Linked DNA regions of Homo sapiens: region 2 is linked to region 1. The links come from fine-mapping of genetic effects on gene expression. Tissue or cell type: blood mononuclear cells. Region 1 holds a variant in brackets; the other region holds the start of a gene. All regions are shown on one strand. Distances are from middle to middle. Region 1 has its middle 28 kb from the start of TRIQK. Region 2 holds the start of TRIQK (triple QxxK/R motif containing).

What was found.
Region 2: it holds the start of TRIQK, and the variant in region 1 is fine-mapped to the expression of TRIQK in blood mononuclear cells (TOPMed, PIP 0.98). The same link has a PIP of 0.9 or more in whole blood.

Annotation. Positions count from the first base shown.
Region 1 is chr8:92,985,732-93,001,899 of GRCh38, forward strand. It overlaps a transcript of TRIQK not described here. Among named protein-coding and RNA genes, the nearest start is that of TRIQK, 28 kb to the left of the region's middle. The variant T/C (reference allele first, on the strand shown) is at 7,362.
Region 2 is chr8:92,956,772-92,972,939 of GRCh38, forward strand. TRIQK (triple QxxK/R motif containing) reads right to left here and starts at 9,373. Exons shown (of 5, transcript NM_001171797.2): 1 at 9,236-9,373. It also overlaps the pseudogene IRF5P1. RefSeq lists an enhancer at 8,580-8,689 and a silencer at 9,360-9,469.

The DNA of each region.
Region 1 (16,168 bases):
GATGTAATTGTTGTTAAAAAACTGTATTACACATTTTGTGCCCAGGCTCTTGTCAATAAGATCAGATATGATAGATGGATCCTATCCTTTCATATTTACAGGCCAGGAAGCTTGACTTTTCAGTTTACCAAAATTAGTAAGAATCCAATATTGTCACACACTGCCAGAGTTCATAAACACTGATGTATAAAGCCAAAGCATGAACTTAATAATTTACAACGACTAATTAAAGTTGTTAAGGGTACCAGATACTTTCCTCTATTTGACTAGCACATTTTTCCCTATATATTAATTACATGCAATGTCAATTACCAGAAAGGTGTTTGTGGCCTTCAATCACAGGGAGGCACCAGTTGAGTGATTTGAATGTATAGCAGAATTTGGCTGTGATTATTTTGGATCTATTAAGATGATTTTACATATCTCTGCCAGAATCGAGTATAACTTCATGTATACTAACATGTATTACATAGGATAACCTATAAAGAAAACTTTTTTTTTTGCAAGTTCTTGAAAGGCACCACATTATTTTGCCAAGCATCAATGCAATATTATCTTGTTTCATATTGTTTTGTGACTAACAAATAGACACATGCTTCATCTGAAATTCACATAAAAGCCTTTAACTTCAAAGATTTTTCTTCTACAGACAAAATGCAACCATTTGGGGAAAATATTTGAACCCAGAAATTAGTACAATTAGCAAATGTATTTATAGGAATAAACAAGAATATCTTTTTCATCAAATCTTTAGCTACTAATAATCACAACTTAATTTACCATGAGAATTTTACACTGATTTAATGACAATACACCTTTATAACTCATGTTCTGTGAGTCACACAACTTTCTAGATAATTCTGTAATACAGAACATGTGAAGACTAGAAGTCTTTTCAGTTACTTTTAGTGAAATACTTTCTCGGGGCCAAATCTCCCATTTAGTTCTACTTTCTTATTTTATACATGCAGAATAAAAGAGTAGGGATAAAATTTGTTTCATTGTAGTCATGCTAAAGAAGGCAAAATCGATGTTCTGCAATGATTCATTCCCAAATACAGAGATTGGAGGCTGAGGGTGAATGTGCAGAGACGTACACATCTGTAAAGGGAAATAATTGGGTGCCATCTAAGGATGATAGTTAAGATGGTTGTCCTCTAATAATCTAGAAATAAAAGAAATGAAATCATATCTTGAAAGTATTATAAATCAGGACATGACACATGACAAGCTACCCAAGTAACAGACCTGTTTCCCCAGATGTTTTCCTAATAGGAATAAATGAAATGGTCAGCTATAAAGTTTTATTTCTCATTTTAATTTGAAATGTAAATTGTCTTTCAGAATTTTTCATTTCTTATAATTTAACATACTATGGTCACCATCCCTGAATCTAATCAAGTCTGGAATACTAATTAAAGTGTTTTCTTTTTTAAGAAAATAATGCCATCACATAGGCCATTGAAGCATCAGCCACTGACTTACTTAAGTGACATTCTATCAGAAAGTCCACTTCTGCCTCTACCTTGTAGTACAGTGACTGATGCTTTCAAGAGATGGCTCTGTAAATCTAAAATTATGAGCAGATGTCAGAAGCTTTCTAGATTCTCCAAAGAATGTATTCATCAGTTTCTTAAAAACCAACTAAAAGGAGAATTAGTTTTCCTCCAGAGAATGGGAACTCTACAGAGAGTTATTTAATGTATAGGCTTATATGTGTGTATGTCATTTGGTTTTACATGATAAGCATTTGGGTTTCTCCTACATAATTAGCACAAACATAGAATGAATGGGTACTATTATTGTCTTTGAATACTAGCAGTCTTAAGAAGCAGCTTAGTTTATTGGTGAGCTATTACCAGAAGTAATTGCTTAGCATAGTAAATAATAATCAAAATTGTAGTGGGTGAATATATGATTCATCAAAATAAAGAAAATTATAATTTTCTCAAAATGATTATTAGAAAAATTATTTATACTAATTTTAATGCAAAGACCTTCACGATACATTCATATTCTAGGATACTATGCACGTATTAAAATCTTGTTTTTGAAGAATATTTAAAAACATGGGGATAGTTTCTCAAGTAAAAATTCAAGCTAATAAACAGAATATTTACTAAGATCTCAATAATGATATTGATGAAGAGATAGAAATACGCATATAGATACAAAAGACACAGATACAGATGCAGATAGGGTACATGGTTGTATCATCTTTAGATGACATAATCGTCGTTTTTAGTTTTAGTTCATACTTTATACTTTCTTTTTTTTTTTTTTTTTTTTTTTTGAGACGGAGTCTTGCTCTGTCGCCCAGGCTGGAGTGCAGTGGCGCGATCTCGGCTCACTGCAAGCAAGCTCCGCCTCCCGGGTTCACACCATTCTCCTGCCTCAGCCTCCTGAGTAGCTGGGACTACAGGCGCCCACCACCACGCCCGGCTAAATTTTTTTTTTTGTATTTTTAGTAGAGACGTGGTTTCACCGTGTTAGCCAGGATGGTCTCAATCTCCTGATCTCGTGATCCACCCGCCTCGGCCTCCCAAAGTGCTGGGATTACAGGCGTGAGCCACTGCACCCAGCCTATACTTTCTTAAATTATTATACCCAAAAGGTGAACTCATAATATTTATTGTCGAAAAAGGATGGATAAATTAAATGAAAAGAAAAGTATGTATGTTTGTGTATGTATGTGTGTGTTTACATTTTATGCCACTTTTTCTGACATTTAAATGTGGTAGGGTACTATATTGGTTTGCTAAATTTATTTTCTACTCTCGTGCTAGAAATCATAAACTCGATTTCATTTTCAAGTGTTACAATTTGATCAGTGATTCCACTCATCTCCTAAATTATTTGATATGAAATTATCTCTGCTCTACTTAACCCTCAACATGTACTTGCATAACATTTTTACTTAAAAAATTGGTCAACTCAGAAGATTGCAGATTTCCAAGATCCTTTGTTTGGCCCGCATATCAGTTTTGTTATCTCATTACATCAAAGGATACTTATCTCTCTTAACAATTAGCAAATTTTGTTGAACATAAGTTTCTCGACATCAGGGATTATATCTTATTTAACTTCTCAGACCTTGAAATATTATATAATAAATATATATTGAACTGCATATCATAAAAATGTTCACCCCTTCCTTCCTTTTTGTTGTTTTAGCTTCATTCCAACTAAAACATGGCAGTGTTTTATTTATTTTTGACAGCAGGTATGCAAAAACTATTCTAAATTTTATTCAGAAAAATAACAAGAAAAGATAAGAAAATTAGTGGGTTACAGATGCAAGAATACATGGATAAATCAGATAGCCATTGACAAACCCTGTAGACATGAGAATTTAATATGTGATAAAGATAATACTGCATATCAGGAATGGAGGGGTTAATCTATAAATATGTTTTATTTTAAAATAGTCAACTTAGAACCACAGCTCATTCCCAAAATCAAAGTAAATTTTAGGTGTATCAAACGTTAACACTAAACCATAGAAGAAATTAGGGCTAGAATAAAATATGTCAGAATACCTGAATAATCAAAACCATTTAAGCAGGGGTTCTCATCCCTCAGGCCATGGACTAGTACCAGTCCGTGATCTTTTAGGAACCAGGCTGCACAGCAGGAGGTGAGCAATGTGCAAGTGAGTGAAGCTTCATCTCTATTTACAGCTGTTCCCTATCATTTGCATTACTGCCTGAGCTCTGCCTCCTGTCAGATCAGTTGCAGCATTAGATTTTCATAGGAGCTCGAACCTGTTGGAAACCCCCCATGTGAAGGATATAGGTTGCACACTCCTTATGAGAATCTAATACCTGATGATCCGTCACTGTCTCCCATCACCCCCAGATGGGACCAACTAGTTGCAGGAAAACAAGCTCAGGGCTCCCACTGATTCTACATTATGGTGAGTAACATAATTATTTCATTATATATTACAGTGTAATAATAATAGAAATAAAGTATACAATAAATGTAATGCGTTTGAATCATCCTGAAACCATCCCTCAGCCTGGTCCATGGAAAAATTATCTTCCACAAAGCTGGTCCCTGGTGCCAAAAAGATTGGGACCACTGCATTTAAGCATAAAAGTAGGTGAAGACATCATGAAAGAATGTATTGACACATTTGACTACGTAAAAGATTTTTTTACAGAAACCTCATTTGTTTAAAAAAAAATCAGAGAATTAAAAGGCACATAACAAGTAGTAGAAGATTGCCACAGAGATTAATGACTTTAATAAAGAGTTACTAATAAGTGATTTAAAAAAATACTAAAACTTCATAACAAAGATCATAAAAAAGCAATTTATAAAAACATAGATTAAAAATAAAGTATTGTTATAACAACATTCCGTAATGGTCAGAATGAGGTAAGATGGAACTATAAAGCTGGAATCACCAAAGAAACAGTATATTATGCTCTTCACATTGGTTATTAAAACAACACAAGAAGAAATGCTTGTCATAAAGATTTTCTCAAGAATCGGGAGCTTCTTTTTGTCAGTTAATAAGAAAATTAAATTAACCAGAACATCTGCTTTTCTAAGAATTCCAGTCAATTATGATACTAATGTGGATGCTATTTTTGCTGTGATGCTCCTTTTTCATTTCCTGTGTTTTATTTTTGTGCTTTCTTTGTATTTTTTTGGTTACACTTGCCAAACCTGTCTATATTACTGGTTTTTAAATTAAAGAAGATCACGTAGTTGTCGCTGGCAAGATGGCCCAATAGGAAGAGCTCCGGTCTGCAGCTCCCAGCAAGATCAACACAGAAGGCAGGTGATTTCTGCATTTCCAACTGAGGTACCCGGCTCATCTCATTGGAACTGGTTAGACAGTGGGTGCAGCCCACAGAGGGCAAGCTGAAGCAGCGTGGGAAGTCGCTTCACCTGGGAAGTGCAAAGGGTCAGGGAACTCCCTCCCCTAGCCAAGGAAAGCCTTGAGGGACTGTGCCATGAAGGATGGTGCACTCCGGCCCCAGGTAGTATGCTTTTCCCATGGTCATTGCAACCCGCAGACCAAGAGATTCCCTTGGGTGCCTAGGCCAGGGCCCTGGATTTCAAGCACAAAACTGGGCGGTCATTTGGGCAGACACCAAGCTAGCTGCAGGAGTTTTTTTTTCATACCCCAGTGGCACCTGGAATGACAGCGAGACAGAACCATTCACTGCCCTGAAAAGGGGGCTGAAGCCAGGGAGCCAAGTGGTCTAGCTCAGCAGATCCCACCCTCATGGAGCCCAGCAAGCTAAAATCCACTGGCTTGAAATTCTCACTTCCAGCACAGCAGTCTGAAGTTGACGAGGAACACTCTGGCTTGGTGGGGGGAGGGAGGTCCACTATTACTAAGGCTTGAGTAGGCAGTTTTCCCCTCCCAGTGTAAACAAAGCCACTGGGAAGTTCAAACTGGGCGGAGCCCACCGCAGCTCCACAAAGCCACTGTAGCCCGACTGCCACTCTAGATTCCTCCTCTCCAGGCAGGGCACCTCTGAATAAAGGGCAGCAGCCCCAGTCAGGGGCTTTTAGATATAACTCCCATCTCCCTGGGACAGAGCACCTGGGAGAGGGGGTGGCTGTGAGAGCAACTTCAGCAAACTTAAACGTTCCTGCCTGCCAGCTCTGAAGAGAGCAGTGGATCTCCCAGTACAGTGCTTGAGCTCTGCTAAGGGACAGACTGCCTCTTCAAGTGGGTCCCTGACCCCCATGCCTCCTGACTGGGAGACACCTTCCAGCAGGGGTCGACTAGGTATTAATGGAATGTATCTCAAAATAATAAGAGCTATTAATGACAAACCCACAGCCAATATCATACTGAATGGCCAAAAGCTGACAGCATTCCCCTTGAAAACACACAAGACAAGTATGCCCTCTCTCACCACTCCTATTCAACATAGTATTGGAAGTTCCGGCCCGGGCAATCAGGCAAAAGAAAGAAATAAAGCGTATTCAAATGGGAAGAGAGGAAGTCAAATTGTCTCTGTTTGCAGATGACATGATTGTATATTTAGAAAATCCCATCGTCTCAGCCCACATTCTCCTTAAGCTGATAAGCAACTTTAGCAAAGTCTCAGGATACAAAATCAGTGTGCAAAAATCACACACATTCCTATACACTAACGATAGACAAACAGAGAGCCAAACCATGAGTGAACTCCCATTCACAATTGCTACAAAGAGAATAAAATACCTAGGAATGCAACTTACAAGGGATGGGAAGGACCCCTTCAAAGAGAACTACAAACCACTGCTCAACGAAATAAAAGAGGACACAAACAAATGGAAGAACTGCACTCCAGCCTGGGTGACTGAGCAAGACACTGTCTCAAAATAATGATAATAATTGGGAGCATTGCAAAAGACTCTAGGGAGTCCTTTCAGTGGCACAGAGGCATGAAACTCTGCTTGTACCCTTCTCTGACTTACACAAAGCAAAAGCAATCCACTGCTGGGAGAGAAACAGGAAACTCCTGCCCCCAGGACCCAGGCAATGTTCCTGGGGGAGTGGAGGAGAAATGGAAGTTGCCTCTGAAGGAGGAGGAAGAGCAAAGATGGACTGCTCCTGAGGGAGAGGTAGAAGCAAAACCCTCTGCCTCTGAGGACAGGGGAGGAAGATCTTCCTGCCTCTACCGGGAGCCTTGTACTAGTAACAAACAATATCAGTCTACCACTGGACAGTGCCAGGCAAAGGTGCAATAGCACCAGTAGGGGTGAGAGACAAAGGTCATCTGCTCATGGGAGAGGAGAGGAGCCAAACTCCTGCACTGATTCAAGTAGGGGTCTGAGAGAAAGCCAGGATACTGTCTCAGGCCCAAGACTTCACATAGAGATGACACAGTTTGGCTGCCACAAGGAGAGGTGTAGGAATGCTGTTAAAGCCGCACCTCTGAGGCCAAGAAGCACAGGGCCAGCCTGAGGCTGAGGCAGGATCAAGAGAACTGAGAACTCCAAGAGCTTGCTATTTATTGCGAGACCATGAAGACAGACTCCTCTGTGGGGCAGTTGAGTGGGGTCTGCTGAAAGCTGAGAATGAAACAGAAGACTGAGTAAAACCTCCGGCACCCCAGAACCCTCATTAAGCCAAAGAAGAGCACCCCATTGTTGGAAGAATTTGAAGTCCTAGTGCACTGAAATGGTGACACCAATGACAAAATTCCAAACTAGCTCAACTTATGAAGAGACTGATTCATTTACTCATATTAACAACCAGTCAGGAGAAGAATTGAGATTTATTTCTTTCAATTTCCACTCTTCTTTCATACACTCCAATCAAAGAGGTCAAAAGGAACCTATGAAGAGAAGCCATCAATATCCTGAATTCTAGGATCTTCTAAGAGACCTATTTGATTTTCTAC[T/C]GGTCTTTTCAGTCATTGGTAAGGCTGTTACATCATTGGTAAGGCTCCAGGATCATGTCATCCAGGTTTCTGGTGCAAATGAAGTGAGTTTTATTCAGCTTTCCCCAATCAACATTTTTCTTTTTAATCTACTTTGTTTTCTTTCCCTTGTGCTTGTCACTGTTATCTTCCCTATCTGAATCTCAGACTTATCCCCATCATTCTTTCCTAGCTCACCTTTTTCTTATTCTTCTCATCTGTCTCCTCATCTCTGGCTTTCCTCTTTCATTTCTTCTCCAAAGAAAAAGCAATGAGATGGTCAGTGAAACAAGGGTGCATCTTCACTGCTTCCTGACAAGCCTCCTTCTAGGTATTCAGTCTAATTTTCTTGAAGATAAAGATCACTTTGATACACAGGCTAATAAGTTCATTGTAGTCAGAACAGACTGTGAAGGAGTCCCCAGCAGAAAACACCCAGATACGCTGCTCATTTTCAGTGCTTAGTGAGCACAACTTTCTGCCATCAGGTAGGCAGAATAAAAGCCAACACCAACCCATCCAATCATGGAGATATCTGCACCGGTGGGCAAAGCTTCCCTAAAACCTTGGCAATAGTTGATAAACTATTATGATGGTATTAGCCTTGATCATGCCAATTCCCGTGTCTGCAAGAGTTAGGATCAGTCTGGGAGATCGAGAATGATGTCTACCTTTAGTTCTTTATGACTAGCCATCTAACTTGGAACTGTCTATTAGGCTTTAATGGCAAATCTTGTCCAGGGTATCAGAAACAATAGAGGTTTGTTATTTTCCTTATTCGAGTAAGAGATATTGATGATAAAAGACTAGGCAAACTTCCTGGGAGGCAAAGGTTTCCACCTACTCCTCTTGATGGTACACTTCCTCGGGCAGTTGGAACAAGGGCAGAAAGAACCAGAAAGGAACCACAAAGACTATTCCTGTTTCTCCTTGTGTGGATGGCACAGAACTGACTAAAGAGCCCTTAGTTATTTTTGTACACTAACTCTGTGCAATTTTGAAAGAGGTATATTAAAATCTCCATGAAAATTTAGTGCACTATCTTCTTTTTAATAGTTTTAGTTAATATTGTATCGTGTATACAGGTTTAAAGTTTTCATAAATTATGCCTTTTACTATCACATAGTATTTCTCTCTGTTCTGTCTTACTGAGCTTAACTTTAAATTCCACCTTCTATATTTATACTTCCCTGACTGCTCTTCTTTTATTTATATATCCCTAGTGTCTATCTGCTTATCTATATATCCCTAGTGTCTATCTGCTTACTCCTTTTTTTCAACATTTTAAAAAATTTATTTGTTTCAAATGTGTTTTATTTTTTAAAAATCACATAATTTTTTTTCCTCCAAGGCTGACAACTGCTGCACTAATAGAAAAAATCCAGTCCATTCATATTTAGAGGAACAATTTAAATAATTGTTTATTATTTTCATTTTTATGTATGCTTACCACTTAATTTATTTTATTGTTTCTTCTTTTTCCTTTTTCTAATTTTTTACTAGGTTACTTATTCCAGTTTTAACTTTGTTAATCTACAAGTCCTGGTCCTTCTCTTTCTTCCAATTCTTGACACTCAATCCAATATATATTTTTATAATATTACATCAAACCAGATACCACCTCTGACCTTATACTACTCTATTTATCCACTGCCTTATTGCTCCAATTCCTGTCAAAATAAATCCCTTAGAACACTTTTGATTTTTGTTGTTTCTCCCTACAAACTCCTTGTTTCCCCCTACAAACTTCTAAACAGAGTTTAGAACTTTTATTCTAGAGTACTGTTGATTTTCCATTACAATATGTTCCTTCTCTTAAAAAAAAACTGTATTTATCAGTTATGTTACTAATTCACAGTCACAATATTATTAAATATATTCACTAAACTATTTCTACTGAAAGATTTATTGCTCATTGTATTTTTCCTTGCTATTCTACTTTTATGGAGGGATCTGGTTTATAATTCATTCCTTATTTGTTAGGGGAGAGTTTTTCTCACATAGATCACCTATATTTTCTAGGTCCTTGCATATCCATAATGTCATTTTTTATGTCTTGATCTGAGAATTATGTCTTTGCTAGGTATAGAATTTTCTGATTACTCTCTTATTATCTTAATGCCTGTTATCCCGCTATTCCCTTGTTACCAGTGCTATGAATAAGTAGTTCAATGCCACTCTGATTCTTTATCCTTTAGTTTTTAACTTATTCTTTCTGATTATGAGCTTCTGCATTTTTCTCTTTATTGTTAGATTTCAGGAATCTTGTCAGAATATGTGTGTTTTTATTCCCCATCTACCCTGCCTGGTATTCAGTGAGCCTTTTCAATCTTTAGGGTCTTTGTTATTAAAATCAAGGTATTTTTCCATTTTTTTCTTTTAACTTATGCTAGGTCTTCTGGGTCTATCCTATGAGATTTTTATCATTTATCTTATTTTTTTTCACATTTTATTTTCACTCTGTGTTTGAAGTAGTTTTACCCTTCTTTTCCATTCACTGATTTGGTTCACAACAGTGATCATCTTCCCTCAAGTCAGCTACTAATAATTTTTTAATTCAAAAATTATCTATGTTTCTTCCAGAAAGTCAAACATATGTTATAATTGACTCTACTTAAAGGGACTTAGTATTTTGTTTGTTGAAGTTGATGAACACGGTTATGTGTCACATCTTACAGCTCTAGTTCACAGGGGCCATCTGTTCTAAGGGTTCTGCTTCATTCCTTTAGCATTATCAATGTTTTCATTCATCTACTCATGATTTTTATTCAACTTTAGTAGCTATGTCAGGTTTCCCGGGATAGTCATGTGACGGGAATTCTAAGAATAATAGAATAGATATAATTGGCTTCTTGTGAGAAAGTGATATGTAACTACCAACTGTCAGATCTCTGTTGAGGCACTAGACGGAGGCCACTCTGATCTTCATTCTCACCAGTTTAGAATGCCATTTGTTTTTAGAACCTCCCTGAGTGAGATTTTATCAATGTAAATAAAATGATTTTTACTTTCTTAATTAAAATATTTCAATGACTTTTGATTGTACTTGGAATTAAATCTAAACTCTTTTTTGTGGTCTGCAAGATTTGCATAATTTTTGTGCTACATCTCCAGCACTACACTTGGTGTAAGTCTTCCATTCTGTTTTCTATTCTTTCAAAATAGTTTAAATTCTCTGGTCTCTCAATTGTACTTTTATTTTCCAATGTTCTCATGGCATTTTAATTTTATGTATTTTTAGTTATTTCAATAAGTTCAAAAAGTTAAATTCAATTGTTCAGCCTACTGCATTGAACCATAAATCAAGACATGTAAGCAAAATTGTGTGTAATATCTCATAGATTCTATAATAGGCATATGTGAGGAATAGTGTTGAGCATTAAGGAGCAAGTGGCTATATGTATGTGAATTGAATAGTTGTTAAGAAAATGGCTAATAAAGGAAGTGACATGAACTCAGAGACTGTAATCACCTTGATATTATAAACTATAATTAATTCTTCTTTGAATATCTCAATACTGGTTATCTATTAATATTGAATGGTTATGTTAACATATTACATAGTGAAATAAGTGATCCTAACCCTTTCTAAATTCTAGGGAGCTTCTACTGTTTTATTATTACTAAAGGATTAGAGCTTGGGTAGACTGCTCTTCTTTTGGGAAGTTTAATAAGGAGTCTTTGTAAGTGTGTATAGATAGTACCATGGTTAAGACTATCGCAGATATTGAAAAATAGTTTACTCTTCAAAATAAATTACAGAAATCTTAGCAAGCAGAAAAAAGTGTTGGTGGAGGAAGTAAAGAATGGGAGAATCACCTCAGTGAAGTGGGGAGTAATCAATATACAGGCAGAGTGAGACCCATGGACATTCGTGTCCACTGAGAAATTCCTGTGTTGAAGGTGACTAGAAAATTTATGATGACCAATACTCAATCATACATTGTTTCTCTGTTAGTACTAGGGTAGTAATTCTTTTCACTTCCTGCAAGCTTTCAGTAGAATATGTTACAAATAAAAGCCTTTTGCTAGTGATGTTCTAAGGAATTAATGATTGGGTAGAGAGGAACTGAGAGAGGAGGTCCACAGAAAGTGAGACAGTGGTGGGCACCAGGCACAATAAACATACTGGCACTAGGAATTCAGACTGTGCATAGGAACAAGGAAATAAGTACTTTAGGAAATTTTCAAAAATATTATGGATCTTGTTGGACTTTTTACAGTACATGTGAGATATTATTTGCATATTAAAAGAAAGGGCAACCGAAACCCTATCAACCTCAGAAGGCTAAAGGATTTAGGACGTTAGGTTACAAAGTACTTTGAGATATCTAGGTTACAAATTTATGTGTGTCTGTGTCAGGGGTGGGGTTGTTAAAGTGAACTGCACTACGTCATTTTAAATGCAACTCAATTTCTGTCCTTACATAGTCAGCAATAGTGAGAACTGACATTTGTGATTTACTCGTAGATTTTGAAACATTGAAGAATATTTTCTTGATGTTGTAAGCTCTAGTGAGCAAATTTGAGGACACTGAAAAAGGCACTAGCACCTGCACATAGTGCACTTTGATATATATTTGTTGCATGAATCAATCAATGAATTAATCAGTGCATGAATAATTGAGTGAATGAATGAATTAATGAAAAGGAACAAATGAATGAGCCAGGGGAACTGGATTTAGTTCTGACTTAACACCTTTGGGCTTTTTTAAAATCCATAAATGTAAAGAATTTGAATTTTAATTTTAAGCACCTTTCAAGTTCTAATAATAGAAAGTTTATTATTATAAGATTTCAAACTGTAAGACAACACTTACAAAAATCAAACAAAGTGAAATTTAGAAGTGTTATGGTACTCATTAAACTAAATTTATTAATTACATTATTGATTTTCCTAATATTTACAGAAATAATATATTTCTGTATGTATATGATTAGTATGAGAAACAAGAGCAATTAATACAAATGAAAACAGTATAAATGCTCAGTCAGCCTCAAGGCTAAACTTTTTTCTGCTAAGACTTTAAAGACCCAACACAGTACTTGACCTTTAGTGAACTCTTAGTAAATGTTTGTAGGATAAATGAATGAATAATTAATGGTTACATTATATAATCAAATATTAAATATTTAGCTTAATGTTGATATATTTTAACTCTCTTTTGTATTCATTTTAATTCTTTCCATTAATTTTCAGTTATAATAAAAAAGAGAGAAATGGAAATGGGTTTAAGCTTTAGTGTGAGGGATTTATATTTCGTTTAAGAAAGACAATTTGGCAGAGAAGATTGTTTGATAATAGAACAGTTTACTGAAAGAAATTGGAAAATTTCTTAAGAGATTAGTGTTAGCACAGTACAAAGGCAGAAAATTAAATTAAGTCAATAGTTTCAAATGTATGCATTTTATATCTCATCAAAGACTGTATAGAAACAAAACTCCCCCATTTGGTGAAAAGGACAAGTATTTAATGTATAACATTAGATGAGTTGTAGGTAAGTATGTAATTACAGTAGCATTTTAGAAAATGAATTTTATTAATATCTCAAATAAAATGTTAATTTCATTAGTTTTTATTCATTTGAAAAAATAAAGGGGCTACTCTTGTTGCTATTTTAGGCATAAGGACTACAAAAATGAAATGACAACCTTAAGGGACTCATACTTTAGTGGTGAAGTCAGACAAATAAGACAACATTTCCAGGACAGCCTAATATTTTTAATATGTAAAGACCAGGGGACTCTGGGAGCAACAAAGAAAGAACACTTCAGAGGTTAGGGAATGATTTACAAAAATGTCTTTGAAGACCATTAGAAAATCTCTCAGGTAGGAAAGGAAATATTTCTCTGGTAGAGGGAGATGGACTTGTAGGACTATCAGATTCTAAGTTGTAGGGTCATGAAAGAGCATGGTTTGTCCAAACACAATTGAATATTTACTTAGTGTCTACTATGTTCCAGATATCTGAGGTGTAGAATATACAGTGAAGAACAAACCAGACATTATCTCCAACTTCAGGTTGTTCCAGGCTAATATTTACAAAGATTTTGGTAACATTTAATAAAGTGTTTACTTGCCCTTGTTGAATACTAGCTATTGCTGTTTATTAAACCTATGTTACAGTTCCAGTAGTGGCTTGTGTTTTTCTGTGCAAATGACATATTGGTTTTTGAATTCTTTTGTTTTTAATATTTTTATTGAAAACCCAACTGTTTCAATCTATTAGCTAAGGACAGACTTGGCTGTTGAATTTGAAATTTATGGCAAAGTTAAAAAACACGTAGTCTCTGAACATATATACTAATTACTCTAAGTTTTTAATCCATTTTACAGAAATTTGGTAATTATCAAATGGAATATTCTGACTACTCGTTTAAACCAGATCACATTTTGTTAGAAATGGTGTATGAATTCAGAAGGTCTTAATGGCCATGTTCCAGTGTCATCAACCAAGAAACAGTGAATCTCCAAAAAAATCATTTTCCTGACCCAATTTGTGGACTTCGTTAATTTAACTTTCTTCATCTTCTGATGCACAGGCCAGAAATGGAATTGTTGCCTCTGAGTGTTAAAGTAATATAAATAATTTATTATTTTCATTGTTGACCAGCATTTTGTTGTTCTTTTGATAAAGACTAATGGTTTTTCAGAGACTTTGTTTGATCAAATTGTATTTGATGAGAGTAATTTTTTCTCCTTTTCCATTGGTTTGAACAGTAACTAAGTCTCCATTAAATTAAAAATGTATTATTCTACATATGTAAATTTGAAGTGAGTTATACTTGACAAAAAACCTGCTTACTTTCATTATTTCAGTTGTTAAAAACTTACTCAAATACCCTCATTGAAGATTTTCTTTATCTTATTTTATTTTTTCTGAGCTCTACATATACTTTCAACTTCCATCATGGTCTCTATATTTACTCATTCTCCGTGATCTAAACACTATTAAACAATTTTTAAAAATATATTTGTATTCAAAGTATCAAAATTTGCATCAAAATATGAAACAGGTAGTTAAAGCATAAAATTAGCTTAACATATATTCAAACATATTTTCAAAGGATAACTTTCAACTTTCTAGTATGAAAGTTAAAAGCCAAAATGGTCACAAATAACTATATCTGTATTAGTCCATTTTTATACTGCTGTGAAGAAGTACCTGAGACTGGGTAATTTACAAAGAAAAAGAGCTTTAATGGACTCACAGTTCTACATGGCCCGGGAGGCTTCACAATCATGGCAGAAGGTGAAGAAAGATCAAAGGCACATCTTACATGGTGGCCAACAAGAGAGCATGTGGAGGGGAACTGCCCTTTATAAAACCATCAGTTCTTGTGAGACTGAATCACTATCATGAGAACAGCCTGGGAAAAGCCTGTTCCAATGATTCAGTCACCTCCCACCATTTCCCTCCCATGACATGTGGGGATTATGGGAGCTACAATTCAAGAAGAGATTTGGGTGGGGGTTGGGGACACAACCAAATCATATCAATATCTCAAATAAGTTGTTAAGGAACACACAATATAAAAAGATATAAATTAAGGCAACCATAATATAAATTGTGGGAAAAGGGTAAAAGTCTAGAGTATTTATATGCAACCAAATTTAAGTTGTTATCAGCTTAATATAGTATGTGATAGCTACAAGATTCTTCATGTTTGCCTCGTGGTAACCACAAAAAAAATTACAGCACATACACAAATGGTAAAGAGAATTAATTCAAAACATAGCACTACAGAAAACCACCAAACCACAAAGGATTAAAAAAAAAAAAAAGAGGCAGAAAGGAACAAAAGAGCTACAAAACAATCAGAAACAATTAACACAATGGCAAAAGTAAGTCTTTACCTATCAATAATAAACTTGAATGTAAATGAATTAAATTCTTCAATTAAAAGGTATAGAGGCTGGGTGCAGTGGCTCATGCCTGTAATCCCAGCACTTTGGGAGGCTGAGATGGGCAGAGCATGAGGTCAGGAGATCAAGACCATCCTGGCTAACACGGTGAAACCCCGTCTCTACTAAAAATACAAAAAATTAGCGGGGCATGGTGGCGGGTAGCTGTAGTCCCAGCTACTGGGGAGGCTGAGGCAGGAGAATGGTGTGAACCCAGGAGGTAGAGCTTGCAGTGAGCTGAGATTGCACCACTGCACCCCAGCCTGGCAACACAGTCAGACTCCATCTCAAAAAAAAAAAAAAAAATGATATAGAGAGGCTACTAAATGGGCAAAACCAAAACAATACTCAAGTATATACCGCCTACAAAAGACTCACTTCATCCGTAAGGACACACATAGACTGAAAATGAAGCTGTTGAAAAAGATATTCGATGCAAATAGAAACCAAAAGTGAACAAAAGTAGCTAAATTTATACCAGATAAAATAGACTTTAAGTCAAAAACTGTAAAAAGAAGACAATGAAGGTCACTATATAATGATAAAGGGATTAATTCAGCAAAATCATATAACAGTTATAAATGTATATGAACCCAACATCAGAGCTCCTGAATATATAAAGCAAATATTATTATATCTAAAGGGAGATATAGAGTGTAATAGAAGAATAGTAGGGGACTTCAATATACCACTTTCAAAGGTGGACAGGTCATCCAGACAGAAAATCAATAAAGAAACATTGAATTTAAACTGCAGCCTTGATCAAATGCACCTAACACATTTATAGAACATTTTATCCATAGCTACAGAATACACATTCTTCTCAACTACTTATGGGCCATTCTCCAGGATAGATTATATGTTAGGGCACAAAACAAGTCAA
Region 2 (16,168 bases), 29 kb before region 1:
CAAGTCTGTTTTTTGTCTCAATTAAGTTTGTAAAAAACTTGACAAAGTTTAATTTTGAAGAACTTTTGGATTTTGAAAATGCAAGTGATGGTTGTTGGGAGCCTTATTAATGATGATTGTTAATATTAGTAATAATAGCAGCTACGCATTTGTTGACTAGCAACTACTGTGGCAAACACTGTGGTAAGCACATCACATACCACAAATTTTCATAACATTTCTGCATGACAGGTACAATTTCCCAACTGAGGAAATTGAGTTTCCTAATGATTAACTGACTTGCCCAAGCATGCAAAGTTGACAGGGAAAGTAGCAGAGATTAGAACTCAAATCTATCTGATTATAGAGCTTACTCTCTTTCCTCTATGTATTAGAGTATGTTCAGACCACTCACCAGAACTACAGACTCTACCTCTGTAAAATGGAGTAAGAGCCTTTTTACATATACATACATGTGTACATAACCATATATACATATATGTAAGTATGTATATAAATATACATATGCATGTATGTATACATAAAATTAATGTATGTACATAAAATATATGTATATTTACGTATACATACACATACAGATACACATATATACACATATATATGTGAAGTAAGAATGAAATGAAGTATTTTTATGAAAATGTGTCAAATATAAAGATCTACATAAATATAAGACAATATCATCTGAGTAACTATTTTCATTATATATCTAAATCAAGGTTCAAAGGGGATATGTTTTCAGTTAAATTTTACAAAGGCATTCCAAACAAACGTATTAATTTTAGTAGAAGAAATGCAAAGTGTTAATTTAAACATTGGTTTTAAATATCTAAGCAAAGAAAATCTAAATATATTCAAGTGGTCTATAACTAAACTTCTATCATCTCAAACTTTCATAAAGTTTTTGGGGTGCAGTATGCAAGCATATACATTATGTTTTGTCTTAAAGCAGTTAGTTCTATCTACTCAGGAGAAGCCAGAACAGATTACGTTTTTACTTTATAAGTAACTTCTTAATATTCTAAAAAAGTTTAATGATTTACGTTTATTTAACAGCCTGCTCACATAAGTTTACCTACCACGTAAGTTCCTAGGGTAACTAGGGGATTGTTTATATATTCCCCCTTAAAGGAAAACCTGTGTATACCTCAGTACAACTTTTATTCCATGAAAGTATAATCATAGAATTAAAGAACTTTAGAAAGTGTGGTACAGTATTTGAAAAAGCTTCAGAACCATTTCAAAATACCAATTTGATCATGTTGCTCTCCATTTGAAAACCTGAAATGGATCCTCATTGCCTCCAAGATGCAAATAGTTTTGCATGTCATATAAGAGCCTCCTCAGCCTTTGCCAGCAGGTTCATACTGCCTCAACTCTAGCCACTTTTCTCTAGATTAGGCCCCAATCACTAAACTTCTTTTGATTTTCCAATCACAAGAACCCATTGACAGCTTAATAGCTTTACAAATCTTATTATACTTATTTCAATGTTGCTCAGCCCTAGCCTTGTCTAACTTGAATTCATAGGCACCCTTCAAGACCCCATTTCAATCAATTACGTACTTTCTCTGTACAAGTCACCTATACCTGCTGGACAAATCTTTGGTTATCTGATTGATATGTAACTCATAACTCACTTATTAAATATTGTACATACTTATCTCTATAAACATCTAGATTTTTGGCATATAATAGTATCCATTATTTCTTATTATAATATTGAGATATTACCTGATTTTCATCTTTGGAAATAAAACTGTAAAATATTTACATGAATTTTGTTTCATTTATGGAATAGAGATGGAAAAGAGAAGATGTGGATTATAAAATTCAAATAATAATAGATTCCTGAGGTTAACCTTAACCCATATAAGACCAAACAGATGCTGGGGTAAGTCAAACACTGAAGGGCAAAAATTGAATAAATCTGAGTCCCTTGAACTGAAAAGAAAAGTACACTATGTCTTACAATTCAGGTCAGGAGTTGGAAAACTTCTTCTGCTTTCTAGATACAAATATTATAGGCTTTGGATGTCAAGAGGGAAAATCAAATTATAACAATGTGACTATGATTTTAGTGTGCTGAGATGCAGAGCAAGGCAATGAAAGTGCCTCATGTGCACCTCTGCGGCAATTACACAACTCTGCTGTATTGTATTGTACTGTAAAAGCAGCCATAGACAATACGTAAACAAATGAGTGTGATTGTTTTCTAATAAAACTTTATTTATAAACAATTAAATTTGAATTTTACATAATTTCCACATCACATATAAACAAATGAGCGTGATTGTTTTCTAATAAAACTTTATTTATAAACAATTAAATTTGAATTTTACATAATTTCCCCATGTCCACATTATCCTTTTGATTTTTTTCAACCGTTTAAATATGTACAAACCATTCCAAGCTCACGGATCATAGGATACACAAGGTGAGCCAGATCTGGCTTGCTGGTCGTAGTTTGCTATTCAATGGTTTGGGGATATTTTTTAATCTATTCATACTCTTGGATTATCAGGTTTCCTCTCTGGCATAAATGAGTCAGAAGTTCACAAAATTTTATTTAAATCTAGGTCGTTCTTATTGAATTAATTGTGTAGTATTATCTTCTCATGCAAACAATGTTTTATATTAGCAGTCAATTTTTAGCTATATTTAACAAAACTATTTAAAGTCTGGGGTATACCATCAGTTATATATATGCATACACACACACACACACACACACACACACACACACACACACACAAAATGGCTTTTGTGTTGATATTGCATTATCTCATAATAAGCTGGTATCTTCGGGTCTTTTTCCTCAAAAGGAAACACGAAGTAGTTTAGATTCCTTTATACACATGCTCCTCAACTTACCGTGGGTGAAAAATATCTTAAATCGAAAATGCATTTAATACCCCAATAAACCCATAGTAAAATTGAAATATTGTAAATCAAACCATCTTAAGTCCAGATGCTTTTCAACTTATGATAGGGTTACATACCGATAAACCCATCATGAAGTTGAAAAACCATAAGTCAAACCATTGTAAATCAGGGACGGACTGTATACGTAAGAGTGGTTTTCTGTTGCCATCACACAAGAATTACAAACTGCCTGGGAATTTTTTTAACTATAAACATGTTGCTCTGTTGTTTTCTGGCATTTCATACTACAGAAAAGAAGTCTGAGGCCAGCCTAATAACATGCTTTTTTCTTTTCTTTCTTGATATGGAAAACATTTATTTTCTTTATCATCATAATTTGACAATTTTGTGATTTTTGTGTCTCTTTAAGTTGTCATGCCTTACATAAAAAAGGCCCTTTCTTCCTTCATAGGTCTTTTTCAGCTCAGGAAAGTTTTTTCTCCTATTTATTTTTAAAATTATTTTTCTTTCAAATACTCTGTTCTTTTCTTCAGGAACAACTATTTGTCTATCTATCTATCTATCTATGTATCTATCTTCTTGTCTCTTTTTCAGAGACTCCAAATATCCACACAGTGGACTCTATTCTTTATTCTCCATATATCATCTTTTTATGATTTCCAATTTTTTAACTAAAATAACCTCTCAAATCTATTCTCTACACCGACTAAACTTTGTACAACGACATCAATTCTATTTGTTACTGCCTCAAATATAGATTTTTAATGCTTTTGTGATAGGCAAAATAATGTTCCCCCAATCCAAAAATGTTCAAGTCCTAATTCCCATAACCTACAAATAAGTTACCTTAGATTGCAGAAGGGACTTTGCAGACATGATTCAATGAAGAACCTCAAAATGGACAGATTGTCCTGAATTATCTGGATGTGTCTTCAAAAGTAGATAACCCTTCCAGATGTGGTCAGGAGACATGACAACAAAATAAGTCAGATTGCTGCAATGTTGCTGGCTTTGACGTTGGAAGAAGGAGGCCATAAGCCAAGGAATGTGAGCAGCCTCCAGAAACTACAAAAGACAAGGAAACCAACCATCTCTCCTAGAGCCTCCAGAAAGGAATGCAGCCCTGTCCCGACCTTGATTTCAGCCCAAAGTGACCTATATCAGACTTCTGAACCACAGAACTGTCAGATACTAAATTTGTGTTATTTTAAGTCACTAAATGTGGGGTAATGTGTTATAAGAGGAACAAAACTGATACGGCTCTCATATTTTCAGTTTCTCATCATTTTGTTTTCTCTTACTATCTTCTCTCTGACACTTCATCACTGTCTGTTATTTTTACATGAAGTTCTCCTATCCATAGAAGCCATGTATTCTTGAATGTGTTGGACGGCAAATAACTCCCCGAAATGTTCTTCCTTCCTTAGCTTAAAATTATTTTTAGAGATTCATAGGTATGCCTCTGAGTTTTCTACTGATAACCTCTGCCTTGATTTTGTAGGATGTCTTGTTTCACTTGATTTATTTTCAAATGTTAATTTATCCAGAATATTTTAGCACTGAAAAAACTGTATAGATAATTTCTACATAAGCCAGTGTTTTCCATTTATCGATAAAGGGGACGGTGTTGAGGGGAGGCAGAAAATGAACTCCCTAGGAATGCAGACAAAGCAGAATCGGAAACTGGGAGGTTCTTTTTAAAACTGTACCTTCCCATCCTGAAAAAAAAAATCTGATATACCTCCTCTGCCCAGAGAGATTCAGTACTATATACTGAGTCACTGTGAATGACGGCAACGTATTATAATGCTCAAGCATGTTGTTCAAAAAAAAGAAAAATCTTCAACCTTTTCCACATAGATAATTAACTTGACTGGAAAGTTATTAATACCCAACAAAGGATATTTCTACCTACAGAGCTAAGTCTAAAACTTTCAATACAGTGCACCTTCCACCTGCTATAGGTAATAAACTATAATCCACAATTAGGACTTTGCCACAGGTATCCATATAGTTCATTATTCCATACCCTGCAATATTTGAATATTTTAACATTCAAAGTATGTAAAACAAATGTTATTTGGATTAACCTATCTTTCTTTTGTCATTGTCAAACTTTTAAATTGTTCAATACAATTGGTCTGTTATTTTTGCAACTACGTCACTAAATAATACTACTACAGAAGAACTAAGCTAGTTTATGCTGTTGTCATTCTCCACTTCAGTGGCTTAAAAGTCATGTGACTGACAAGAGTCTTTCATTAATGGAACTGTCTTTGCCTTTTGAGTCAAAAAAACTGTTAAACCACTGAATATGGAGTATTTACCTTTTTATTGTTTAACATTTCAAAATTACGAATTAAGTAGGAATCATTTATTTTTCATGGAAACATACACCTATCTCACTCTATTGTTGCAAAGATGCTGAACATTTCTACCATATAAAAAAGGTATAAATATATATAATGGTATGAAAAATTAGCTCTAGGCCTACATGATCCTTATCTGTTTAATAGGAAATTTGAGAATATCAAATATGATCAAATATGTATCACTATTTTCCATTAGTATTATTTTAGTCACTCTGGATGAATACCAAAAAACCACAAAATTCTAAGTAATATTGTTTAAGACATTAACACTTTGAGTCAAATCTACTGATATCAAAAACACAGATACATATGCACAAAGATTAAGGAGAAAGCTGGCTGAGTTTCGCGTTTCTACATAGAAGAATGTCCACTGGAGCAGGGACTCTCAAAAGATGCTTTGGCATTGGAGTGAGACAAAGAAATTCTTTATTGAGCTGATAGATCTCTACATTACACAATATTTATCATCTCTGAACTTCAGGATCCCAAAAGCCAGTAGTACTTCCTTTAAAGAAATTAGAATAATTTTAAAACACCCTGGCATATTTCAAATACCCCAGAGGTGTCACCCAGAATGGAAAACCATTCTGGAAATGGAAAACCAGAGCACTAGATTAACAGTCCTGGCCTCAGATCCCACTTCTTCTTCACAGCTTACCAAAAAGAGACGTATCTGACCGGTTCACATTACTCCACCGGTAGAGCTAACCCATTATAAACCACTAAGCACTGGAGATTTTCCATCTTTTATTAGACCTCTGCCCTACACCATGAAAAGCAGTAATTGTAAGTAAGCGTATCTGTTCCGCAATCTGAAATTTTTCTCTCAGCTGAACTAAAGTCTAGGTTCTGGGAAAGAGAGTAGGAGTAAAAGGGGATAGGAAGTACTAGTACTCATTTTTGGTCTCATTTTTGCATAAAGCACTATCCCCACTCGACTTGTTATTGCAAGTTGAAGTTGATATGGCAGGCGCCACATGTCTGTTTACAAACGCAAGAGAGGAAGGAAAGAGCTATTATTGAGCCCCTAAAAATCTCTAAATCCATTGTAATGCTCTCTCTAAGCCATTTGTCTTTATCCCTGTTTCTCTACCAGAAATGAACAGAGTTGAATAAAGAAAGAGTCAAGTACCAAACAGTTCAAATAAAATTACAAGTACTAACGAAATAACAGGTGCATATATACATTTATGCGTTTTACAAAAGCAATAGCTCTTTACCTCTTCAAGTTTTTCCTTATCCAATAACAACTTTTTATATCTACTACTGATATCCACTTTTATTGATAAAGCTAGATAGGGAATCAGACCAAAGAAAATAATGAACTCTATTTACAGATTTCTATATGAATATAGAAATCAGGAAAAGAGCCACAGTGAAAACAACCACAATTCTTTTTAGCCACAAATTAAAATGTTATAAAAGATTATTCACTTAAGTTTAAAAAAAAAAAAACAGTTCTAAGTATCAAGTAATGATATTCCAGTGGCATGTACTAAAAATAATCAGCTTTTCTTTGTCCAAAACGGACCTCGATAGATGAGAAAGTTTATGGATTTAATGTTCATCTCAAAAGTACAATTTTGGCCAGACGCGGTGGCTCACCCCTGTAATCTCAACACTTTGGGAGGCCGAGGCGGGCGGATCACCTGAGGTTGGGAGTTCGAGACCAGCCTGACCAACATGAAGAAACCCCGTCTGTACTAAAAATACAAAATTAGCCAGGTGTGGTGGTGCACTCCTGTAATCCCAGCTACTCGGGAGGCTGAGGCAGGAGAATTGCTTGAACCAGGAAGGCAGAGGTTGTGGTGAGCTGAGATAGCGCCATTGCACTCCAGCCTGGGCAACAAGAGTGAAACTCCGTCTCAAAAAAAAAAAAAAAATACAGTTTCACATTTTTCTCAAAATATTTGACAATGTTCTTTTTACTTGTTTAAATACCAGAATATGCTTTAAGAGGTTATGATCAAAGGGCATTTGGGATAAAACATAGATTACATGGTTTTGTAAGATAGCAACAAATAACTGAACATTAGTAGTTCCCGTTTGTTAGTGCTCAAAAAAACAAAAAAGTACAATGGGAAAGGGGGCCCCAAAAGGGAACTGCAGATGACTGAAGGCCTTGAACAAAGGTATGTTATGGTAAGAGGCACTGTGGAAGAAAGGCAAAAGCCCCACTCTGCTCCCAGCTATGTAGCCTTGGGTAAAAGTTACTTAGTCTCTCTGTAGGATGAGGCAAGTGGGAGAGAATAATTTCCTTATCCCTAAAGAAGTTGAACAAAAACAGGGTCCATTTAGGCTTAAAATTGTGCATTTTTCTGAGGAGCAAGTCAATAGCTTTCCTTGGTTTCTCAAAGTGGTAAATGACACCAAAAAGGTTAGTCATCCTCGCATTAAAAGGTAATGTTTCCCAATCTTTTCAGGTATATATATATATCTATATATATATATATATCTAGTGATATTAAAGAGGAAAAGGTGTCATTCAAGACATTACAGGTTCTACCTAACCAGAACCAACACAGAATCAATAATGAATAGATGAGTTAATTTCTTCCCCATTTCTAAATAACCCTAAGATTAAAAAAAAAAAAAATCACAAGGGAAATTTGAAAATACTTAAAGCTGAATGGCAATACTTATACGTGTTTATAAATTTGGATCATATACACAAAAAGATTAAAAGTGTAATCAATAATGCTTTACATTTGTGTGGATCATTACTTTAATGATACTTTCACAACCAATTATTCCTCCTTTTTTAGGAAGGAAGGGCATATCCTAGAGTCTCCAATTTACAGATAACGAAACAATTATTGCCCAAGGACAAACATTTCTTAACCATGCCAGTTTCCTGACTTGTAGGCCAATGCTCCTCCCAATGTTAACAAGCAGCACAAGCTTCCTTCCTGGGGGTTTGCACTGTAAACCTGCCAGAGGAAAATAAAAGATTTTTACCTCTTTTGTTTTTTCTCTCTGGAATGTTTGTTGTGCTGAATCATTAGGAGACAGAGTATATGAGCAAACAAAGGCAGATTTAAAATGGTTATCTGAGGTTACCATCTCACACCATACTTGTTGATCATTAAGTATGAGCCGAGTGAAGCAAAAACAGCTCTACAGGTTTAGCACACCTCTCCACAGTAGAGAATGAAAGGGAGATTATACATTGGGGCTCCTCTAGCAATAAATTGCTTCAACTTCTTCAGGAGGCTTATTAAGCTCAAACAAGCAGCAGAGAACTCCAAGTAGAAGAAACCTAATCTCCAATCCCCTTTTCCTAGTCATCCACGCGGACACCAACATCTGATGGATTCAGGAATACACCAAGCTCCAAGAAAAATACCCCCGCCCCACAACCTCACCACCACCGATAAAGCCACCTAATCCTGTCTGAATCTCTTCTCTGCAAATGTTTTGGTATGCAAATACTCGTTCATTAATAAGAGGAAGCAGGAAAAAGAGTGAAGAGGAGTACCATGGGAAAGGGGGCCCCAAAAGGGAACGGCAGAACCCAGAGAGCTGCACTGACAAGTAAGCGACCGCGAGTAATCGGTCAGCACAAAGGAGCCAATCCCGAGCCGCGTGGAAGACCTTGGGAGGTGGGCGGGACTAACGTGTCCAGGGCCCAGCGGCTGGCGCCAGACACGCTGGCAGGGCGGGAACCGCGCGTTCCTTAGCAACCGCAATGGCCACGCCCACCGAACCCAGCACCCTCCATCCCCCATCCCGCAGCCAGCGCCCTACTCAACGGGAACGGGTCCTTCAGTGATCACCGTACCTACTGGGTTTCCCGGACTCCGGGTTTCTCTTGCAGAGCCTCCCTCCGCCCAGCCCCACCAAGTGCCGCTCCCAGGGACGGAACGATCGTCTCCCAAACGCTTTAGGGCTCGCTAAAGAGGTGCGCCCGCTTTCATTCCCGGACCCCGAGCTTCCCGGGCAGGGTCTCCCCAATCCCCTCGCACTCGCCGGACACACACCTCAGCTCTGCCAAGGCAAGGGCCGACAAACTTCGTGTCCTGTGGGAAATGTTGCTGTCCACGGTTCTGTCACTCAGGGGCAGGGGCGGGACAAGCCAGCCGCACACCCCTACTCCCAAAGGGTGAGGCGGAAAAGAGGCGAGGCTCTGCCCCCAGGGGCGGGACCAGGCCTCAGCCTGCTCTCGGATTGGTCGGCCTTTCTCCCGTCTGTACGCCGGTCCAGGACGCAAAGGCGCTGGCCCTGAGGCCTTTCCCTCATTTTGATGCCACTCCGGAGTTCTAATACCTGTCTCACGAGGTGACTGTAGAAATTAAAAATAAAGACTGTGACTTGTTTAGTTAATATAAAACGGAAAAATATGTTATTTTGATTATTGAACCCTCCCATCTCACACACACACACTCCCCAATTCACAGGATCATCCCTAAGGAGCGTCCCTAAGTGGAAGGGCGCACTGTCTGTGTAAACAATCAATTAATTGCCCATTCAAACAGCAAAAAAGAAAAAAAAATCGTTTTATATTAACATTAACCAGAGATTAATAAATTTAGGAAAGATTGCAAAAACGTGACTGACAATTAGGATTTAGGAGCCTATGTTCGGGTACTCAATTTTCACATCTACAAAATGGGAATGAAATATTAAGATGTTACTTATTGGAAAAGTATTCAAATATTAAATGCTTTATAAATTATACTCATGTAATCCTTACAAAACCCACTAAGAGTATTATCCACAGCCTATGGACAATGAAACACAGGCTAGGAAAGGCTAGATTTATTCAACCATTCAACAAATCTAAGTGCCTGCAGCCATCATTTTTTAATATTGTGGTGAACTAAATCTAAAATTCCTTCAAAAAATTATGCAACCTCCAATTTAATTTTTCTCTTGCTCACATAAAAGTCACCTTCCTCTAGGCCAGCCCCATCATATCTTTTTCCAAAAGCCCTTGAGAAAGAAAGTAGCATACAAAAAAAAAAAAAAAAAAAAAACTGAGACAAGTATAAATAGACTAACCAGAAGGCTTTCTGAAATCTCACAGAATATTATGGCCAGGAATTGAATCCAAAATGTAATTTTATTTTCCGTCCTCCTAAATCATTTTCTGGTCTCCAGTTCCTCTCCCAGAAATAAAGGTAGAGTTAAATGAGATTATATTAATACACTTAACCAGATTACTTATGTGTGTGGCTTTAAAATAGTGAAACTCTTTTTCCTTCCATATTAAACCAAAACCCAGAAGGGTTTATCTTGTCTGATAGATACGGTTGTAGTAAGAAAAAAGAAAAAAAAAAAGAGTACCTCTGGACAAGTGCCTTGAGATTCAATTAAAATGTTCATCGTACTGTGATGCAATTGTTGGAATAAAAGAAACCCATTCCAATTACAAATAATTTTACACTCTTGACCTGCTGAATATCCAAATTCTTCTGAAAGCTTGCTAAATGTGAATAACTCTCTATAAAACTTTCTTGATTTGTATGACTCAGAGTCCCCATTTTCTTTAATCTTTTAAAAATATTTGGTTTGGCCAGGTGTGGTGGTTCATGCCTGTAATCCCAGCACTTTGGGAAGCTGAGGTGGACGGATTGCCTGAGGTCAGGAGTTCCAGACCAGCCTGGCCAACATGGTGAAACCCCGTCTCTACTAAAAATACAAAAATTAGGCAGGCATGGTGGCAGGCACCTGTAATCCCAGCTACTCAGGAGCCTGAGGCAGGAGAATTGCTTGAGCCCGGGAGGCAGAGGTTGCAGTGAGCCGAGATTGCATCATTGCACTCCAGCCTGGGCAACTGAGTGGGACTCCATCTCAAAAAAAAAAAAAAAAAAAAATTAGTTTTAGACTAAAAAGAAAGAGTTATGATTATATATTAATAAATATATAAATAAATGCTGTAAGATTTAAATAAAAGTGGTGAATGTACTTGAGTCCATTTTCATTACATAAAGATGTACAGCAATGCATTTGTACAGCAAATGCATTGAATATTCTCACATATGTAAGATATTATACAACAAGAAGTAAATAGCTTAATGTAAAATTAAAACTTCCAGATGTATGTTATATGCTTATTTCTTTACCATATAAAGACATATATTATTGACTTACATTTCTAGCAAATTGAAATATAATTGGCTGCATAGTATTCTATGGTGTATATGTGCCACATTTTCTTTATCCAGTCTATTATTGATGGGCATTTGGGTTGGTTCCAAGTCTTTGCTATTGTGAATAGTGCTGCAATAAACATACGTTGGCATGTGTCTTTATAGTAGCATGATTTATAATCCTTTGGGCATATACCCAGTAATGGAATTCCTGGGTCAAATGGCGTTTCTGGTTCTAGATCCTTGAGGAATCACCACACTGTCTTCTACAATGGTTGAACTAATTGACACTCCCACCAACAGTGTAAAAGCATTCCTATTTCTCCACATCCTCTCCAGCATCTGTTGTTTCCTGCCTTTTTAATGATCACCATTCTAACTAGCATGAGATGGTATCTCATTGTGGTTTTGATTTGCATTTCTGTAATGACCAGTGATAATGAGCTTTTTTTATATGCTTATTGGACGCATAAATGTATTCTTTTGAAAAGTGTCTGTTCATATCCTTCACCCACTTTTTGATGCGGTTGTTTGTTTTTTTCTTGTAAATTTGTTTAAGTTCCTTGTAGATTCTGGATATTAGCCCTTTGTCAGATGGATAGATTGCAAAAGGTTTCTCCCATTCTGTAGGTTGCCTGTTTACTCTAATGATAATTTCTTCAGCTATACAGAAGCTCTTCAGTTTAATTAGATCCCATTTGTCAATTTTGGCTTTTGTTGCAACTGCTTTTGGAATTTTAGTTATAAGTCTCTGCCCATGCTTATGTCCCGAATGATATTGCCTAGGTTTTCTTCTAGGGATTTTATGGTTTTAGGTCTTACGTTTAAGTCTTTCATTCATCTTGAGTTAATATTTATATAAGGTATAAGGAAGGGGTCCAGTTTCAGTTTCCTGCATATAGCTAGCCAGTTTTCCCAACACCATTTATTAAATAGGGAATCCTTTCCCCATTGCTTGTTTTTGTCAGGTTTGTCAAAGATCAGATGGTTGTAGGTGTGTGGTGTTATTTGTGAGGCCTCAGTTCTGTTCCACTGGTCTATATATCTGTTTTGGTACCAGTACCATGCTGTTTTGGTTACTGTAGTATAGATTGAAGTCAGGTAACATGATGCCCCTCTTTGTTCTTTTTGCTTAGGATTTTCTTGGCTATATGGGCTCTTTTTTGGTTACATATTTAGAATTATGTTTCTGTGTTTCCAAGTATTTGAGAGTTGTCTAATATCTTACAGTTATTGACTTTTAATTCCATTGTAGTTAGAAAATATATATTGTAATATTTCAAATTTTATTGAAAATTATTGACACATATATTATAACCCAACATATGGTTTATCTTTATGACTGTTCTCAGTGTATTTGGAAAAAAAATGTGTATTCTGAAATTATGGAATGCAGTATGCTCTAAATGTTGATTATAGTCTATATCTTATGACAGTTTTTTTTTTTTGCTTTTAAAAACATTTTATTTATTTATTTTATTTTTTCATTTTACTTTAAGTTCTAGGATACATGTGCAGAATGTGCAGATTTGTTACTTAGGTATACATATGCCATAGTGATCCTTACCAACATTTTTAAGCATATTCTATCACTTATTGAAAGAAAGGTGTTAAATCTCCAACTATGCTTGTGCATTTGTTTATATTTTCTTTTTTTAAAAAAAATTAATTTTTTTTAAATTTTAGGTTCCAGGATACATTTGCAGAATATGTGGGTTTGTTACACAGGTAAACTTGTGCCATGCTGGTTTGCTGCACCTATCAACCCATCCCTTAGATATTAAGCCCAGCATGCATTAGTTATTTATCCTGATGCTCTCCCTCTCCAAATCCTCCCCTAGCAGGTCCCTGTGTATGTTGTTCCCCTCCCTGTGTCCATGTGTTCTCATTGTTCAGCTCCCACTTATAAGTGAGAATATTCAGTGTTTGGTTTTCTGTTCTTACATTAGTTTGCCGAGGGTAATGGCTTCTGGCTCCATTCACGTTCCTGCAAAGGACATGATCTCATTCCTTTTTATGGCTGCATAGTATTCCATGGTGTATATGTACCACATTTTCTTTATCCAGTCTATCATTGATGGGCATTTGGGTTGATTCTATGTCTTTGCTATGGTGCATAGTGCTGCAATGAACATGCGCATGCATGTATCTTTATAATAGAATGATTTGTATTCCTTTGGGTATATACCAAGCAATGGGATTGCTGAGTGGAATGGTGGTTCTGCAGTTCTGCTTCTAGGTCTTTAAGGAATTGCCACACTGTCTTCCACAATGGTTGAACTAATTTACATTTCCACCAACAGTGTAAAAGTGTTCCTATTTCTCCACAGTCTCACCAGCATCTGTTGTTTCTTGACTTTTTAATAATTGCCATTCTGACTGGTGTGAAATGGTATCTCATTATAGGTTTTGTTTGCATTTCTCTAATGATCAGTGATGTTGAACTTTTTTTCATATGTTTCTTGGCCACATAGATGTCTTCTTTTGAGATGTCCCTGTTCGTGTCTTTTGCCCACTTTTTAATGGGGTTGTTTTTCTCTTGTAAATCTGTTTAAGTTCCCTGTAGATTGTAGATATTAGACCTTTGTCAGATGGATAGACTGCAAAAATTGTCTCCCATTCTGTAGGTTATCTTTTCACTCATGATAGTTTCTTTTGCTATGCAGAAGCTCTTTAGTTTAATTAGGTCTCATTTTTCAATTTTTGCTTTTGTTGCAATTGCTTTTGATCTTTTGTCATGAAATCTTTGCCCATGTCTATGTCCTGAATGGTACTGCCTAGATTTTCTTCTAGGGTTTTTATAGTTTTGGGTTTTACATTTAAGTCTTTAATGCATCTTGAATTATTTTTTGTATAAGGTATAAGGTCGGGGTCTAGTTTCAGTTTTCTACATATGGCTAGTCAGTTTTTCCAGCGCTGTTTATTAAATAGGGAATCCTTTCCCCATTGCTTGTTTTTTTCCTGTTTGTCAAAAATCAGATGGTTGTAGATGTGTGGTCTTATTTCTGAGTTCTCTATCTGTTCCATTGGTCTATGTGTCTGTTTTTGTACCAACACCGTGCTTCTTTGGTTACTGTAGCCTTGTAGTATAGTTTAAAGTTACACACACAAGGGAACAAGACAAGGATGCCCTCTCTCACCACTCCTGTTCAGCATGGTATTGGAAGATATGGCCTGGGCAATCAGGCAAAAGAAAAAAATAAAGGGTATTCAAATAGGAAGAGAGAAGTCAAACTGTCTCTGTTTGCAGATGACATGATCCTGTAGCTAGAAAACCCCATTGTCTCAGCCCAAAAGCTTCTTAAGCTGCTAAACAACATCAGAAAAGTCTCAGGATACAACATCAATGTGCAAAAATCACAAGCAATTTTATACACCAACAATAGACAAGCAGAAAGCTAAATCATGAATGAACTTCCATTCACAATTGCTACGAAGAGAATAAAATACCTAGATATACAGCTAACAAGGGATGTGAAGGACCTCTTCAAGGAGAACTACAAACCACTGCTCAAGGAAATCAGAGAGGACACAAACAAATGGAAAAACATTCTCCATGCTCATGAATAGGAAATATCAATATCCTGAAAATGGCCATATTGCCCAAAGTAATTTACAAACTCAATGCTATTCCTATTAAACTACCATCGACAGTCTTCACAGAATTAGAGAAAACTACTGTAAAGTTTATATGGAACCAAAAAAGAGCTCATATAGCCAAGACAATCCTAAATAAAAAGAACAGAGCTAGAGGCATCACGGTATCCAACTTCAAACTATATTTTCTTTAGTTGTGTTAATTCTTTCATTATATATTTTGAAGGTCTGTTACTAGGCTCATACACATCTAGAATTATTATGATTTCCTGATGAATCAACACTTTTATCATTATGCAATGTTGACCTTTTTATCTCTGGTTATACTTGGTGGTGAAGAATATTTGCCTGATATTAATAATCTTAGATTAGATGTATTATGCCTGTTGTTTCTACTAGATCCATTTCCTTGCCTTTACATTTAAGCTATCTATGCCTTTATAGCTCTATCTCTTGTATACAATATATTGTTGAATTTGCATTTTTTCCAGTCTGACAATCTTTGATTTGTTATAAAAATATTTATTCAATTTCCATGTAACATAGTTATTAATATGAAGGGTATAAGTCTATCATTTTTCTTTGTATTTTTTATTTTTCATTTTTACCTTTCTCCTCCATTTATACTTTCCTTTTTTTATTTGCTTTAGTCAAAAATGTTTAGACTTCCAGTTTGTGCTTCTAATGGTTCTTTAGCTATATTCTTTTTGTTATTTTATTTGTGGTTATTCTAGAGGTAACAATCTATATTGTTATGCTGAGAATCATCAATGTTGCATTCATTTAATATTATGTTCTAAGAGTAGTGCCCTGTGCTCCTCCTTCACACCACCCCCCAGTTTTCTGCCTAGCTCCAACTTTCTACTTGCTTTGGCATTATGCCATTTGGCATGTCCCCATCCAGGAGGGTAACAACACTATCTTTCACACCCGGGCCAAGAACACAGGAAAGTGAAGTAGAAGAGTGGATAAGGCCAATCCCACTAAGTAGAAGGCTAAGCAGTGCTGAGCCCTTAACAAAAGCCACAACTTCCAGCTGATCTTTACTGTGTTTCAAGACCTGTCACTCAGGGCCAGCTTCACGGTATGAGAACTGTACAGGCCCACAACACCCATGGTCAGAAGGTTCCCCTGTTTGTTTAATGATCTACTATTGCTGTCCTGAAATTTTTAATAATTTTATCTTTGAACTTATTTTTTGTAAGTTCAGTCTAATGGGATAAT